Homo sapiens: one gene and its partner. The protein of the gene in region 2 purifies or fractionates together with the protein of the main gene of each other region. This does not show direct contact. Each region holds a gene or a part of one and is shown on either strand. Other genes may lie near its edges.

Region 1 (7,531 bases), on a different chromosome or scaffold from region 2:
TGGTTCCATAAGATTATAATGGACTATTGTGAATGGAATTGCATTCTTGATTTGACTCTCAGCTTGGATGTTAGTGATGTGTAGAAATGCTACTAACTTTTGTACATTGATTTTGTATCCTGAAACTTTGCTGAAGTTGTTCACAGAGACAGGAGCATTTGGGCAGACTATGGGGTTTTCTAGGTATGAAATCATATAGTTTTCAAAGAGAAGTAGTTTAATTTCCTCTCTTTCTATTTAGATCCCTTTTATTTCTTTCTCTTGCTTGATTGCCATGATCACTGTGGAAAGCAGTCTGGAGATTCTCAAAGAATTTCAAATAGAACTACCATTCAACCCAGCAATCTCATTACTGGATACATATCCAAAGGAATAGAAATTGTTCTGCCCTAGAGACACTCGCACATGTACGTTCATCACAGCACTATTCATAATATCAAAGACATGACACCAACCTAGATGCCCATCAACAGTGGACTAGATAAAGTAAATGTAGCACATACATAGTATGGAATATTGTGCAGCCAATAAAAAAAACAAATCATGTCCTTTGCAGCCACATGGATGGAGCTGGAGACCACTATCCTAAGTGAATTAACATAGAAACAGAAAAACAAATATCACATGTTCTCCCTGCTAAGTGGGAGCTAAACATTGAGCACATATGAACACGAAGAAGGAAACAGTGGACACCGGGGCTTACTTGAGGGTGGAGGGTAGAAGGAGGGGACTATTGAGTATTATGCTGATTACCTGCATGACAAAATTATCTGCACACCAAACCCCTAAAGCACGCAATTTACCCATGTAACAAAACTGCACATGGACCCCTTGAACCTAAAATAAAAGTTGGAAAGGAAAAAAACAAAAAGATTATAAGGGAGTTGAAAAATTCCTACTGCCTAGGGATGCGCAGCCATTGTAATGTCCTTGCCTAATGCGTTACTCAGGTGTCTGTGAGGATGCTGCTGTGCTGCCAGTCTTGCACAAGTACAGCACATACAATTATGTACAATATATAATACTTGATCATGATAATAAACGATGTTACTGGTTTATATATTTAGTATACTATACTTTTAATCATTATTTTTTAGTGTACTCCTTCTACTTATAAAAGAAAGCTAACTGTAAAACAGCCTGAAGCAGGCTCTTTCAAGAGGTATTCCAGAAGAAGGCATTGGTATGCCTTGGTATTCCATGCATGTTACTGTCCCTGAAGACAGAATGAAGAACGTTCAGTAGGAAAAGATGTGGATATGGAAAACAGTAATACTGATAATCCTGCCCCTGTGTAGGTCTGTGCCAGTGTAATTGTGTCCTAGCTTTTAACAAAACATTCAAAAAGTTTTTAAAAAGTGCAAAAATACCCAGCACTTTGGGAGGCCGAGGAGGGTGGATCACAAGGTCTAGATCAAGACCATCCTTGCTAGCACGATGAAACCCCGTCTCTACTAAAAATACAAAAAATTAGCCAGGCGTGGTGGCAGGTGCTTGTAGTCCCAGCTACTCGGGAGGCTGTGGCAGGAGAAGGGCGTGAAACCGGGAGGCAGAGCTTGCAGTGAGCTGAGATCGCACCACTGCAGTCCAGCCTGGGCGACACTCTGTCTCAAAACAAAACAAAACAAAAAAAGTACAAAAATAGAAGAAAACTTACAGAATAAGGATATAAAGAAAATATTTTTTTGTACAGCTGTATAATGTGTTGTGTTTCAAGCTAAGTGTTATTACAAAAGAGTCAAAAAGTTAAAAATTGAAGTTTTTAAAGTAAAAAAAGATAGTAAGCTAAGGTTAATTTATTATTGAAGGAAAAATAAGATTTTAAAAATAAATTTAGCATAGCCTAAATATACAGTGTTTATAAAGTCTACAGAAGTGTACAGTAATGTGCTATGCCTTCACATTCATTCACCACTTACTCACTGATCACCCAGAGAAACTTCCAGTTCTGTAAGCTCCATTCATAGGAAGTGCCAAATAAAGGTGTACCGTTCTTAAAAATATTTTATACTGTATTTTTACTGCAACTTTTCTGTGTATATATATGTTTAGAGGTTCAAATACTTGCCACTGTGTTACAAATTGCTTACAGTGTTCAGTACAGTAACATGATGGCAGGTTTGTAGTCTAGGAGCAATAGGCTGTACCATATAGCATAGGTGTGTAGTAGGCTATACCACCTAAGTTTGTGTAAGTACGCTCTATGATATTCAGACAGTGATGAAATCTCCTAAAGACACATTTCTCAGAATGTATCCCTGTCATTAAGCAATACATAACTATGGAAAGTATCTAAGGGAATTCCAAATACGGGCTGGATAAAATGAATTGCATTAGCATTATGCATTACAATAAAAAAGAACCAATATTGAGTACACTTCATGTGCTAAGTATTTCACTGGTGTTCAGAAGTATGATCCTGTTTCATCTTCACGACAGGCCTGAAAAGTTAAATTTCATTATCTATAATTTCTAATCATAGAAGTAATTTGCCAAATGAAACAAAGCCAGTAAGTAATTTCTTAAGCAAGATTTTGAATTTAGATGTGTTTAAGTTCTCAGCCCACATTCTTTCCACTATATCAAGAAGCTTGTTGAAGATGCAGGAGGGCAGATCCCAGTACCTTCTTAAAAACTGTACATATTATGTTCTTGCTTCTTTGGGGCTTTTGTGAGTTAAGCTCCTACTTTTACATTTGTAAGCATTCAGTTTCCCACACAGTTTTAAAGGCTCTATTTAGGTTCCTCGCCCCATCTTTACAGGAAAGCATGCCATTATTGGCATTGATTAAATATTCATGGCGCTCCACCCTCTGGATTCCATGCCCAGCACCTGTCATAGTGCCACCTTACTGTTTGGACTAACGAGGGGTTGGTTTTCTTATATTAATTGGTAGTAAGCCCCTCATTTCCATTTTCCAGGTAACATGCTTGTGTGTTTGTTTTCAGGTATGCAGGCTATATAGATTGGTTAACAAGCATCTTTCACTTAAACAAATAGATAAAGAGCAGGTGTCTTCAGTTCCTTGTCCTCAAACTTAAATGGTGCATTAGCTCTGACTTCATTACTACTGACACAGGATTCCTTAAATCTCTATTCTGTAAACAAATAAACAAACAAAAAATACCCTTTTATCTCTACAGAAAATCCTGTACATGATAAGGATATTTTAAATTCTCTGGTTATTTTCTATACTCATTTTTTAGTTTATATATTTTCTTTGACGTATCCCATTTCAAATTTTCAAGGTTGACACATCATGCCTGTAATCTCTAGGGCTTAAAAGTCAATTTCCGTAAAGTACAACACACAGTCCACTTATTTTACAAACCAAGGGCAGTCAAACCAAGCCATGAAAAGTAATTTTTAGGTAGAAATTAGGCTACTATTCTTCATCAATACAGATGAAGCCTCATTATTGCCAAAGATCTTAATTACTATGATGATGATGATTCAGTAATCTAGATTTAATTTTCAAAGGAATTTCAAAAGGAAACTCTCCACATCTCATCCCACAACTATCCAAATGCAGACTCAAGCCTAAGTAGTATATGTCACATAAACACAAAAAAGGTGGGTGGCAGCGAAGGGGTTTGGGGATGTTTATGTGATCTGACTCTCTGTTGGACCAGTTAATTTTGATCCTTCACCTTCCTAAAGCATCCAAACCTTAGGTGCAGATTTAACTTCTCGCCATCCACGCCATCTAGTGGCTTGTATGTGTTACGTTTGGTTTTAAGGATGATTCCTAATGACTCGGGGGCGGGGTACGCGAAAAACAAAAAGGTTGGTAGCGACAATTTTCCTGTGTCTCTCTACCTCAGTAACCCCTCATACGAACACCTTTAACTCTTTTAACTATTTTAAATATGCGCAGTGATGCGCAGAGAGGATGAAGGGGACGCAAACTTTCAGAGACGCACGCCCCTTGACGATGACATTTAGAAAAGGGCTCCACATCCCTGTTATTCGTAAAGGACGGGAAAAGGAGTTGTGTCAAGACCTCGATCGAGGAGAGTCTCTGATTTTTTGGCAAGTTGGACAGATGGCATATCAATCCCTGCAACGTTAACAATCTGGTTTTGAAAATAAATAAAAACAGAAAGAGGAAATGCACTTAAAAATTCCGCGTCGGAGCTTTGCGGGTCTTGCCTTCCAGTCGCCCCCAGAAGACAACCAATTCCTGCGCATTCCGCTCCGCTCACCCTCCTTCCCAGCTTCTCTCGCTCTCTTTCCCCCCATTTTCCCACGCTCGCCTTGAACCGGGACTCGAGAGGCAGAAGCAAGGCACGGGTCCCCTTTCTCCTCTCCTCCACCAAACCACCGCAGCCCAGCACGTGAAGCTTCCCTTTGTTCATCCGAGGCTCGCTTTTCTCCCCAGCAGATCCACCTGGATGCTCTCCCTCGGTGACATTTTGCGCCGGGGTTGGTGGGTGGCTGGGGTGGAGCGAGAGGAGCCCGAGGGGGCGGGGGCGGAGAAAGGTCAAGCCGAGGGAAAGGCAGGAGACGCCTTTCCTAACCTGCGTGGCGGGGCGTGCGCGCGGTTATTTATTTATTTTCTCCTTATTTATTGATCGCACTAGCAGAGCAGCGCGGGGAGCCCGGGGAGATGCAGGACCACCCACTGGCGGGGAAGCAGCTAGCAGCCCTCCCGCGCCCCCGCGCTGCCGAGCGCCTTCTGCCTCCGCGCTCGGACGAGAGCCCGTGCCGGCCCCGGCCCCGGCCCCACCGCGCCAACGCCGCCCGCCCGGCCGCCCCGCAGCCCCGCCGCCCCGCAGCCCCGCACCGCGCTGGCCAGGCTCCCGCGACAGTGGCCCCGCAGTAAGTTGGCAGGAGCGAGTCCCCTCCGTTCTCGCCTCCCCCGCACCTTTTGAACTTGTTGCTGCTGCTCTGCTCGCCTGCGCCTGGCTTTTGGAAGGTGAAAAGGAGGAGGGAGGCACGGAGGGATGGGGGAAGGGAAAGAAGAGCTCGCTTGAGCTTTATTTATGCTCTCTCGGCGCATCGGATTCGGCTGCTCGCGAGCTGCTTTCTCTCCTCTTCCCTTTCCGGGTGCACGGCGAGGAGAAAGTCTCTATGCAACTAAGCCCCGGCGCGCACTTGGCCAGGTATGTACCGCGGGAGCGGCGCGTTCTGCGCGGAAGCAGATGCTGCTGCCGCCACGGCGGCGGCGGCTGCCAGCTCCTGAGCTCTGTAACTGTCACACTGCACCTGAGCTGAACTTGAAAAGAGAGTGAAGGGGCGATTGGGCGAACGCTTTTGGCAGACACAGAGGGTGTTTGTAGACGTGGGGGAGGAGAATCTCTATTAACGCCCCCCACCGTAACCACTGCACATCACCTCCATCTCTGCAAATACAGCCCGAGGAGTAGAGGCAGCAGCAGCTGGACCCCCAAAGAGAGACGTGGGGCAGCGGCTGTGACCGCATCTCCTGAGCTACAACAACAGGTCGCCTTTTTGAGACTCCTTTGGCGGGAAGGGCTACTTGGAAAGGAAGGTTTGAAAGAGTGAGAAGGGTAGGTGTAAGGGTTCCCTAATTCGTCGAAAGAATTCTATTGGGTGACTCTCGTTCGTCTTCTCTATCCTACACTCCACATACTGACCCTATATTATCCAGACTGTGCCGGGGAGAAATCAAAAACACCTGTTTGAAGAAACGGCTGCACCTGTGTGCTTATTTGTGCCAGAGGGTGGCCTAGCCCACCTGCAGGAAGAGATTTGGCTGGGTTCTGTTGAGGGTGATTGTTAGGACGTTGTATTTTGTTGCCATTATTCCAAATACCTGTCTTGGAGGGAAAGTTGCCCTTCTGAGAACTGTGACTTTACCAGGAGCCCTATCTTGGAATAAGAGTTACACCTCTGGACCACGTTTCTCACTAGTACTTTGCTTGACTGGAGGAAGTGGGTGACTTTTGGCTGCTTCGGTGACCCATTGTAGACGCCTCGTTACCCTTCTTCCTTCCGCTTCAAGTAATCATGGCGGCGGGGGTGGCAGCGTGGCTGCCTTTTGCAAGGGCAGCGGCTATCGGGTGGATGCCTGTGGCCTCGGGGCCTATGCCGGCTCCCCCGAGGCAGGAGAGGAAAAGGACCCAAGATGCTCTCATTGTGCTGAATGTGAGTGGCACCCGCTTCCAGACGTGGCAGGACACCCTGGAACGTTACCCAGACACTCTACTGGGCAGTTCTGAGAGGGACTTTTTCTACCACCCAGAAACTCAGCAGTATTTCTTTGACCGTGACCCAGACATCTTCCGCCACATCCTGAATTTCTACCGCACTGGGAAGCTCCACTATCCTCGCCACGAGTGCATCTCTGCTTACGATGAAGAACTGGCCTTCTTTGGCCTCATCCCGGAAATCATCGGCGACTGCTGTTATGAGGAGTACAAGGATCGCAGGCGAGAGAACGCCGAGCGCCTGCAGGACGACGCGGATACCGACACCGCTGGGGAGAGCGCCTTGCCCACCATGACTGCAAGGCAGAGGGTCTGGAGGGCCTTCGAGAACCCCCACACCAGCACGATGGCCCTGGTGTTCTACTATGTCACGGGGTTTTTCATTGCCGTCTCTGTCATCGCGAATGTGGTGGAAACAGTGCCGTGCGGATCAAGCCCAGGTCACATTAAAGAACTGCCCTGTGGAGAGCGGTATGCTGTGGCCTTCTTCTGCTTGGACACGGCCTGCGTCATGATCTTCACAGTTGAGTATTTGCTTCGCCTGGCTGCAGCGCCTAGTCGTTACCGTTTTGTGCGTAGTGTCATGAGTATCATCGACGTGGTGGCCATCCTGCCTTATTACATTGGGCTGGTGATGACAGACAATGAGGACGTCAGCGGAGCCTTTGTCACACTCCGAGTCTTCCGGGTCTTCAGGATCTTTAAGTTTTCCCGCCACTCTCAAGGCCTGCGCATCCTGGGGTACACACTGAAGAGTTGTGCCTCAGAATTGGGCTTCTTGCTTTTCTCGCTCACCATGGCTATCATCATCTTCGCTACAGTTATGTTCTACGCAGAGAAGGGGTCTTCGGCTAGCAAGTTCACCAGCATCCCTGCAGCCTTCTGGTATACCATCGTCACCATGACAACACTAGGGTAGGTGCCATAATGGGAAATGGGATGGAGGTTGGGTATGGGTGAGGCGATTGTGGACCCATCGAGGTTACATGGTAACTCCGGGGAAATCATTTGTTTTCTTTCCTGAGTTTAGGAAAGCATTATCTAAATGGTTTGGCAAAACTCTTTTCATCTGTGAAATGGGTATAATACACACGTTGAAGTATTAAGGCATTGCTGGCAAATGTTGATGCCTGAAAGTGATAAAGATACAAAGAAATTTTAGAATTCCTGAATATATGAAAGTAGTAGCAATATTTATATTAATATATAAAAATATGACAATGAAAAACAAAATCTATGCCCTAATAAAGACACAAATATATACAATGTATATTGAAATGTCTATAAAGTGGTTCAATGCATTTAAATGAAAAGTTTCCAGGTATACTTGAACTATTATTTTCATATGAATAGATAC
Region 2 (7,022 bases):
GCAGTTTACTGTCGGGGGAGGTAACAGAGAAGCGGCCGCACCTCCAGATGCCTGCCTGGCTGCCACTTCCAAACTGGGCCTGACTTGATCCTGGGCACTGAAGAGGCCCCAACAGTCTACGGAATCGTTTTGGAAGCTCTGCACGTCCTGGCAAGCCAGATGAGTTGCACGAGAAAGGCCCTGGTGGCCAGAGCGTTCAGCAAATCTGTGTGTGGCGCTGCTCACCTGGGGCTCCCTGCTGCTGGCAAATCCCAGAAGGTCCGTGGGGATGGGAGCAGGAGCCACTCCAAGGTGGGGTGTGGGGATGGCATCGCCCGCTTGGCTCTGTTGAGGTCTGTGTGTTTTCCGATTTGGTCTTTTTGGTTATTCTTTTTGGTGAGCGGAGGGAGGGTATTACCTTTTACCATATCAGTAAACTGTAACTAATATGCATCTTGTCTCTAAGAATATACAGAAAGGGACAGAATCATTGCAGACAGTGTCATGCAGGGTTGCCTTGCATTACAGACGCACGTAGGAGGCTCTGAGGGCTGGCAGTGAGGATGGCCCGGTGTTCTCCAGACTAGATTTGGTGCCTCCGTCCCTGGCAGGATCCTTTGTGACCACTGGGATCCCAGTCTGTGGGGCTCCCAGGATGGGGCCATGGGGGCTTGTGCCCTCCTCCTTCCCAGAGCAGAACACTTTGAAATCGAGAAGTTCCTCAAGGTAAATGTACCTGCGTGAAGCCAGAGGACTTCGTTTCACGTGCAGAGAAGCTGCAGAAGGCCCAGGAAGATGCCAGGGATGAGTGATCTTCTGAGAAGGTGCCCAGCAGAGGGGCCACAGCACAGCCACTGACAGACCCAGCCCAGAGGGCTGCCACCTGCTTCCTTAAAGGGCCACAAGGCTGTCCCTCAGGACAGCGAGGGTGATGGCCACAGGAGGTGAGGGGCGACTGTGACCTTCCTGAGCACTGCCATGAGCAGGGGCTCTGCCGAGCCTCTCAGTCATCTCATTCCTGAACAAGAAAAACCACTCGCACCCCGCCTGCTCCCTTACACCGTTTCCTAAAGATGCTTTACTGCCTGAAGTGTCAGGTGCCTCTTAAAGGGCACCCCAGGAGAGAGGGGCAGGGAAAGGACCTTGAGTCCTCCCTGAGGCTCCTCCATGCTAACCGGGTGTTTTCTGTGTGCTGTGGGGTTGGTATTTCAAATCTGAAAACAAGATTTGAAAACACGGTCTGCTTCTATGTGCAGAGCCCTCAGAGTGTGGCTCAGAGTCGAGGGGTCCTGTGGTCACAGGGCAGGCGGGGAGCGTCAGTGTGCCTGGCGGGCTTGCGGCATAAAAATAACCCGCGCAGCTTATCGACAAGTTATTATTACCCCGTGTGGCCGGGGCCTTCTGGCCCCATGTGCTTCTCTGTGCTTTCCTGTTAGCTGCCCTTAGCCCAGTGGAAGCCAAGCTGTCGGGGTATCGATCAAGCCGGCTCTCAGAAAGGTTTTCCTCCCCAAAGCGGTTTCAGCTTTTCGCCTGCAGCTATTTTTAGAGGCTTGGGCTCCGCAGATGGGGCCTCTCTCCAATGATCCTGTGTGGCGGGGCTGGGGAGGAGCCCAGGCCAGGACCCCACAGGGAAGCTGTCTGGGTGGGGGACAGGCTTCTCCTTCCGCCAGTGGGTAACACCAGGCTTTGCTCTCAGTGCCCAGCTGGGATGAGCCCTGGAGGCTGCTCCGGCTGGGATGTTTTCTAGATATTTTTGGCCTATTTTCTGGGTAACAAGGAGTAAATTCTGAAAATGGAGGTCTCACATCCCACCGTCAGCAAACCAGGCCTCTGAGTTAAGCCCTGATCCCTTTGAAAATGCAAATTCCCGCTGGGTCACTACCACCCGTGTGTGTCTCGGGGGCTCCCTTGACCAGGCAGAGCTGGATGCAAACTCTCAAATGGAAGAAAAGGCTGAGAACGTGGTGCCGGCCCAGCAAAGTCAAACACCCCAGAGCTCACTGGCCCAGGGCCAGCCACATCCACTCATTCCCAGGGTGACTCACAAGATCCTTCCCACCCAGGACCATGGCTCTCTCGACAGCCCTGACAGTGACGCCAGGGTAAGGATTCACTCCTGCAACCACAGGGGCAGGACACGTGGGAGGAATCCGCGAGGACCTACCTCAAAGTGGATGGCCCCGTTCCCGTCCGCATCAAAGGCGTTGAAGAGGAAGTGTGCATAGGTGGTGGCATCTGGGGAGGGCAAGGAAGAGGCTGGGGTGTGTCGGGGCTGCCTGGCGGCTCATCTCCCACCCCAGGCAACCCCAGCTGAGGGTGCTAACTGCGTCCTGGCTTGGAGTCCCTGTTTCCCACGGGACAGGGGCAGCACCAAGCCTCCAGGATGCAAGGGGCAGCAGGAGGGTCCCCTCCCTCCACACTGGGACACAGCAGGGCTGCCCTGCCTCAGACTCACCTCCCTGAGGGAAGAACTGCGCGTAAATGAGTTTGAAGGTGTCTTCGTCCACCAGGCCCGTGGGACACTCCTGCAGCAGGAAGGCACCCCCTCAGCCCTCGGCCACCCCCAGCTCCAAGCCCGACTCTGCATGGTGCCTGGCTGGCCTCTCTCCACCCCCTTGGGGGCTGCCTGCTGCCTGTGGCACTGCTGGGGCCCCCTGGCCTGGGTTGTGGAAAGCCTGGGTAGAGGTGGGGTGAGAGGGAGGAGGGGTGAATAGGAAGGGGGTGACTGCTCCCCCATACCCTCCTCCTCTGTACCAGCAGCAAAGACACGGAGGGAGGAGCATGGCGGCCTCAGCGATGCCCATTCCGGAGCCTGCCCCCGCCACACAGCTTTCCCACAACACATAAGCCCCTTAAAGGCCCCTGGGATATTTACTGTGGCATGGAGAAGTTTCCAGGTCTCCCTGAGCCAGGGTCTCCAAGGCCTCTCCCGGGGGAATGGGGAACACTCACATTCTTAAAGCCCCTGTAGAGAGACTGCAGCTCCTTCTTGGTGAACTTGGTCTGGGCCTGCAGCTGGTCCAGCCCCTCTGGCTGGTGGCGCACCGTGGACAGCTCCAGCTCACTGTCGCTGCTATCTGGAGTGGGACACAGACCAGAGAGTGTAAGGCCTGTAGCCCTGCTCCTCCATCTTGCTCCAGTGTGGCCAGGGCATGGGCCAAAATAGCAGGTGGAGGAACTCTCTTTGCATGACTACCATGGACAGCCACACAGGCTGTGCACTGCACAGAGGGGGTGTGACTGAGTGGCCCACACAAGAGCTGTGCCTCTGCTTTCCTGCCCCCCACAGGGCGGGCCTCCCCATCGCAGCCCCTGCAGTGTGCCCCCCTGTCAGCCGCACAGTGGGACAAGGTGGGAGCTGCTCTTGTCCTAAAGAGGCACTGAACAAGGGGATATAGGAGGGGGAAAGACAGCAAGACAGGCATGAGGGACACTTGAACTTCAGTATCCAATTCCTAGACCACTTCCTCCATGTGGCCCTCCCTGACTTTCCCCAGGAATGGAGAGGGTGCCTCCCTTGGCCCTCAAGGCCTAAGGCGATGCTGTTCAGCTACAGTTGGCAGAGGGGTGTTATTCACATCTGGTTAGGAGGCTAAACCTCCAGGGCTGTGGGGGCAGGGATCAGACCTGTCCTTTAAAAACAATACACAAACTTGGCAGGGTGCGGTGACTCACACCTGTAATCCCAGCACTTTGGGAGGCTGAGGCAGATCACGAGGTCAGGAGATCGAGACCATCCTGGCTAACACGGTGAAACCCCGTCTCTAATAAAAATACAAAAAATTAGCCAGGCATGGTGGCGGGCGCCTGTAGTCCCAGCTACTCGGGAGGCTGAGGCAGGAGAATGGTGTGAACCGGGGAGGCGGAGCTTGCAGTGAGCCGCGATCGCGCCACTGAACTCCAGCCTGGGTGACAGAGCAAGACTGCATCTCAAAAAAAAAAAAAAAAAAAAAAAAAACCACAAACTTGTTAACTAACCATGGCTACATTTGAGGGGGAGGTGCAATTTCAGGTGATTTTTACTTTTTTATTTATGATTTTAAAAAACATTTTCCTAATTTCTTTTGGTGTGACATGCATCACTTTTACAATGCAAAATAAAGCTAGGGCTGAAACAGCACTGAGTGCCCACACCTTGCTGAGCAGCATCCTCGCATAATTACAGAGCGCCACCTTCCCACAGACCCAGGACTCATGGGCCCCGCTGCACCGTCGCCCTGTCTCCCCTGGGCCACACAGAATGGTGGTGATCCATAATCACCCTCATGGCTGGTACTCTGGTGCTGGCTGCTGCCTCTCCCACTGCACAGTGAGCTCTTCAGGGGCAGCTGTCCTGCACAGCTCATCCTGTGCCCGTGGTGCCTGGCATGGTGCTGGGCACTGGTCCTGTGCTGAGCTTGCTCCATACCCAGGCCTCTCCCGAGAGCGTGGTGGGAAAGACAGCCTGCACTGCCCACTCACACTAACCACAAGAGCACCCTGAAAGCTGCTCAGCAATTGGGCTGTTTCTTTGGTCCACACATGCTCCCCATCTCCAAGATAACTATTTCATACCATCCTTCCCCTTAAGTTTCCAGTATCTCCTCTCCCATCCTTACCCTCAGGTTGCTTCCCACTTCACTGAGAAGACACAAGCCATGGAGGAAAACTTCCCCAAGCCCTCACCCCACACCTACCCACCTGCCTGCACCTGGCCCAGACGTCTGCACGCCTGCCTGCTCCATGGCTGAACTGTGCCTGCTCCCAGCAAAGGCAAACCTGCCACTTGTGCAGTGGGTCCCGATCCCTCTCACCTACTCAGGCAAGCGGTGCCAGCCAAGTCTCCCACTCTTTCCTCATCACCTTTTCCCCTCTTCTGGATCATTCCCATCACCATATAGACATACTGTAGTATCTCGAATCCTTAGTCATATTAAGTATAGGCAAACCCTGTAAACCAGCATCCCACGCCAGGCAAGCATCCCACATAGACTCTTCCCCTGCCCAGGGGCCTGCACAAGGATGCTCACAGCAACAGCATTTTTGGCAGGAGAGTTGGAGGCAACTCAGGGGTTTATGGCAGGCAGGATGGGTAGGCAAAATATGGAGGCTGCACACTGGGGAGAACTGTGCCGTGGAGCAGATGTACACACAGCAGCGTGGATGGATGGATGGATGGATGGATGGTAAGAATCCTTTGATTAAGAGGCAGACTTTTCAGACTGGAAAAGCAAGATCCAATTATATCCTGTTTACAAGAGGGATACTCCTAATACAAAGATATATTAAGGCTGGGTGCTGTGGCTCACTCCTGTAACCCCAACACTTTGGGAGGCTGAGGTGGGTGGATCACCTGAGGTCAGGCGCTCAAGACCAGCCTGGCCAACATGGTGAAACCCCATCTCTACTAAAAATACAAAAATGAGCCGGGTGCAGTGGCGGGCACCTGTAATCCCAGCTACTCAGGAGGCTGAGGCAGGAGAATCGCTTCAATCCAGGAGGCGAAGGTTGCAGTGAGCCAAGATCGCGCCATTACACTCCAGCCTGGGTGACAGAGTGAGACTCCATCTCAAAAAAAAAAAAAAAAGATTTAAAATAAAAGAATGGAAAAACATTAAGAAAGCTGGATGTTTTATAATGATACAAGGATTAATTCATCAAGAAGGCAGAATAATCTAAAACAGACATCACCTAGTAACAGAGCTTTAAAATACCTAAAACAAAAAATTCAGAACTAAAGAGAGAAACAAAAAAGTCACAATCATAATTGGAAGATTTTAGCACCCCTTTCCAGTAAATGGTATGACAAGTGACGAAATAAAAGGTTTGAAAAACACCATCAACCAATTTGACCTAATTAATATTTATAGAACACTGTATAATTGTAGATACACATTCTTTTCAAGAGCATATCCTGAGGTTACCAATATATATCAGATGCTGGAACACAGACTCTTACCACAATGGTACTAAGTTAAAATTCAGGACAAGATATTTAGAAAATCTCAAGTATTTGGAAATAAACAATACATTTCTAATTAGCTCATAGGTCAGAGAATAAACTGCAAGGTGATCACATTTTGAGATATTTTGAATTGAATGATTAAAAAAACAGAGCATATCAAAATTTGCTGGATGCAGGTAAAGCTGGGCTGACAGGGAAATTTATTGCTTTCAATTCCTTTATTAGAAAAGAAGATAGGTGTAAAAGCAATGACATAAGCTTCTAGATCTAAGAGTCAGAATCTAAAAAATGCAGAGCAAATTAAATTCAAAGTAAATAGAAGAAAGAACATAATAAAAACAAGAGTAGAAATCAATGACAGGCTGGGTGCAGTGGCTCACGCCTATAATCCCAGCACTTTGGGAGGCCGAGGCAGGTGGATCACTTGAGGTCAGGAGTTCAAGACCAGCCTGGCCAACATGGCGAAACCCTGTCTCTACTAAAAATACAAAAAAAAAAAAGTTAGCCAGGTGTGGTGGTGCACACCTGTAATCCTAGCTACTCAGGAGGCTGGGGCATGAGAATCGCTTGAGCCCAGGAGGTTGGAGATTGCAGTGAGCAGAGATCACACCACTGCACTCCAGCCTGTTGACAGAGCAAAACTTCGTCTCAAAAAAAAAGAAAAAAAAATCAATGACAAATATAAGCATAGCCACAAACCTTATAATAAAGTCATTAAGAAACTCAAGTCACAGGCTGGAAAAACATATCTCCAGTATATGTATCTGACAAAGGACTCATTTCCAGAATACATAATTAACTTCTACAAATCAGCATAAGACTAATAACTCGATTTTGTAAACAGGCAAAAGACAAGGACGTGTCACAAAAAAAGATATACAACTGGCCAATAAGCACAGGAAAAGGTACTTGAAAGGACATGTGAGAATTCATGCAGTGATGGGAAAACTGGAGTACTGGCTCAGCCAGAGTGGAGATACCTCCCTAAGCATCTCAGGTGTTGGCTGAAACCCCAGAAAAGCTATGCTTTAGGACTGTGAACCACATCCTTGAGTAAGCGCATGCTCTAGACCCAATGACAAAGTCAAAACAAACCTAC

What was found.
Region 1: the proteins of KCNIP3 (region 2) and KCND2 purify together in Homo sapiens (affinity purification with western blotting; 2 studies listed by BioGRID). This does not show direct contact.

Annotation. Positions count from the first base shown.
Region 1 is NC_000007.14:120,268,659-120,276,189, forward strand, and holds the start of KCND2 (A-type voltage-gated potassium channel KCND2), read left to right. Parts: upstream 1-4,516; 5' UTR 4,517-5,974; coding exon 5,975-7,089; intron 7,090-7,531. UniProt on the Homo sapiens protein: Voltage-gated potassium channel that mediates transmembrane potassium transport in excitable membranes, primarily in the brain. Mediates the major part of the dendritic A-type current I(SA) in brain neurons.
Region 2 is NC_000002.12:95,370,330-95,377,351, reverse strand, and holds part of KCNIP3 (calsenilin), read right to left. Parts: intron 3,057-7,022; coding exon 2,932-3,056; intron 2,505-2,931; coding exon 2,435-2,504; intron 2,215-2,434; coding exon 2,144-2,214; intron 1-2,143. UniProt on the Homo sapiens protein: Calcium-dependent transcriptional repressor that binds to the DRE element of genes including PDYN and FOS. Affinity for DNA is reduced upon binding to calcium and enhanced by binding to magnesium. Seems to be involved in nociception.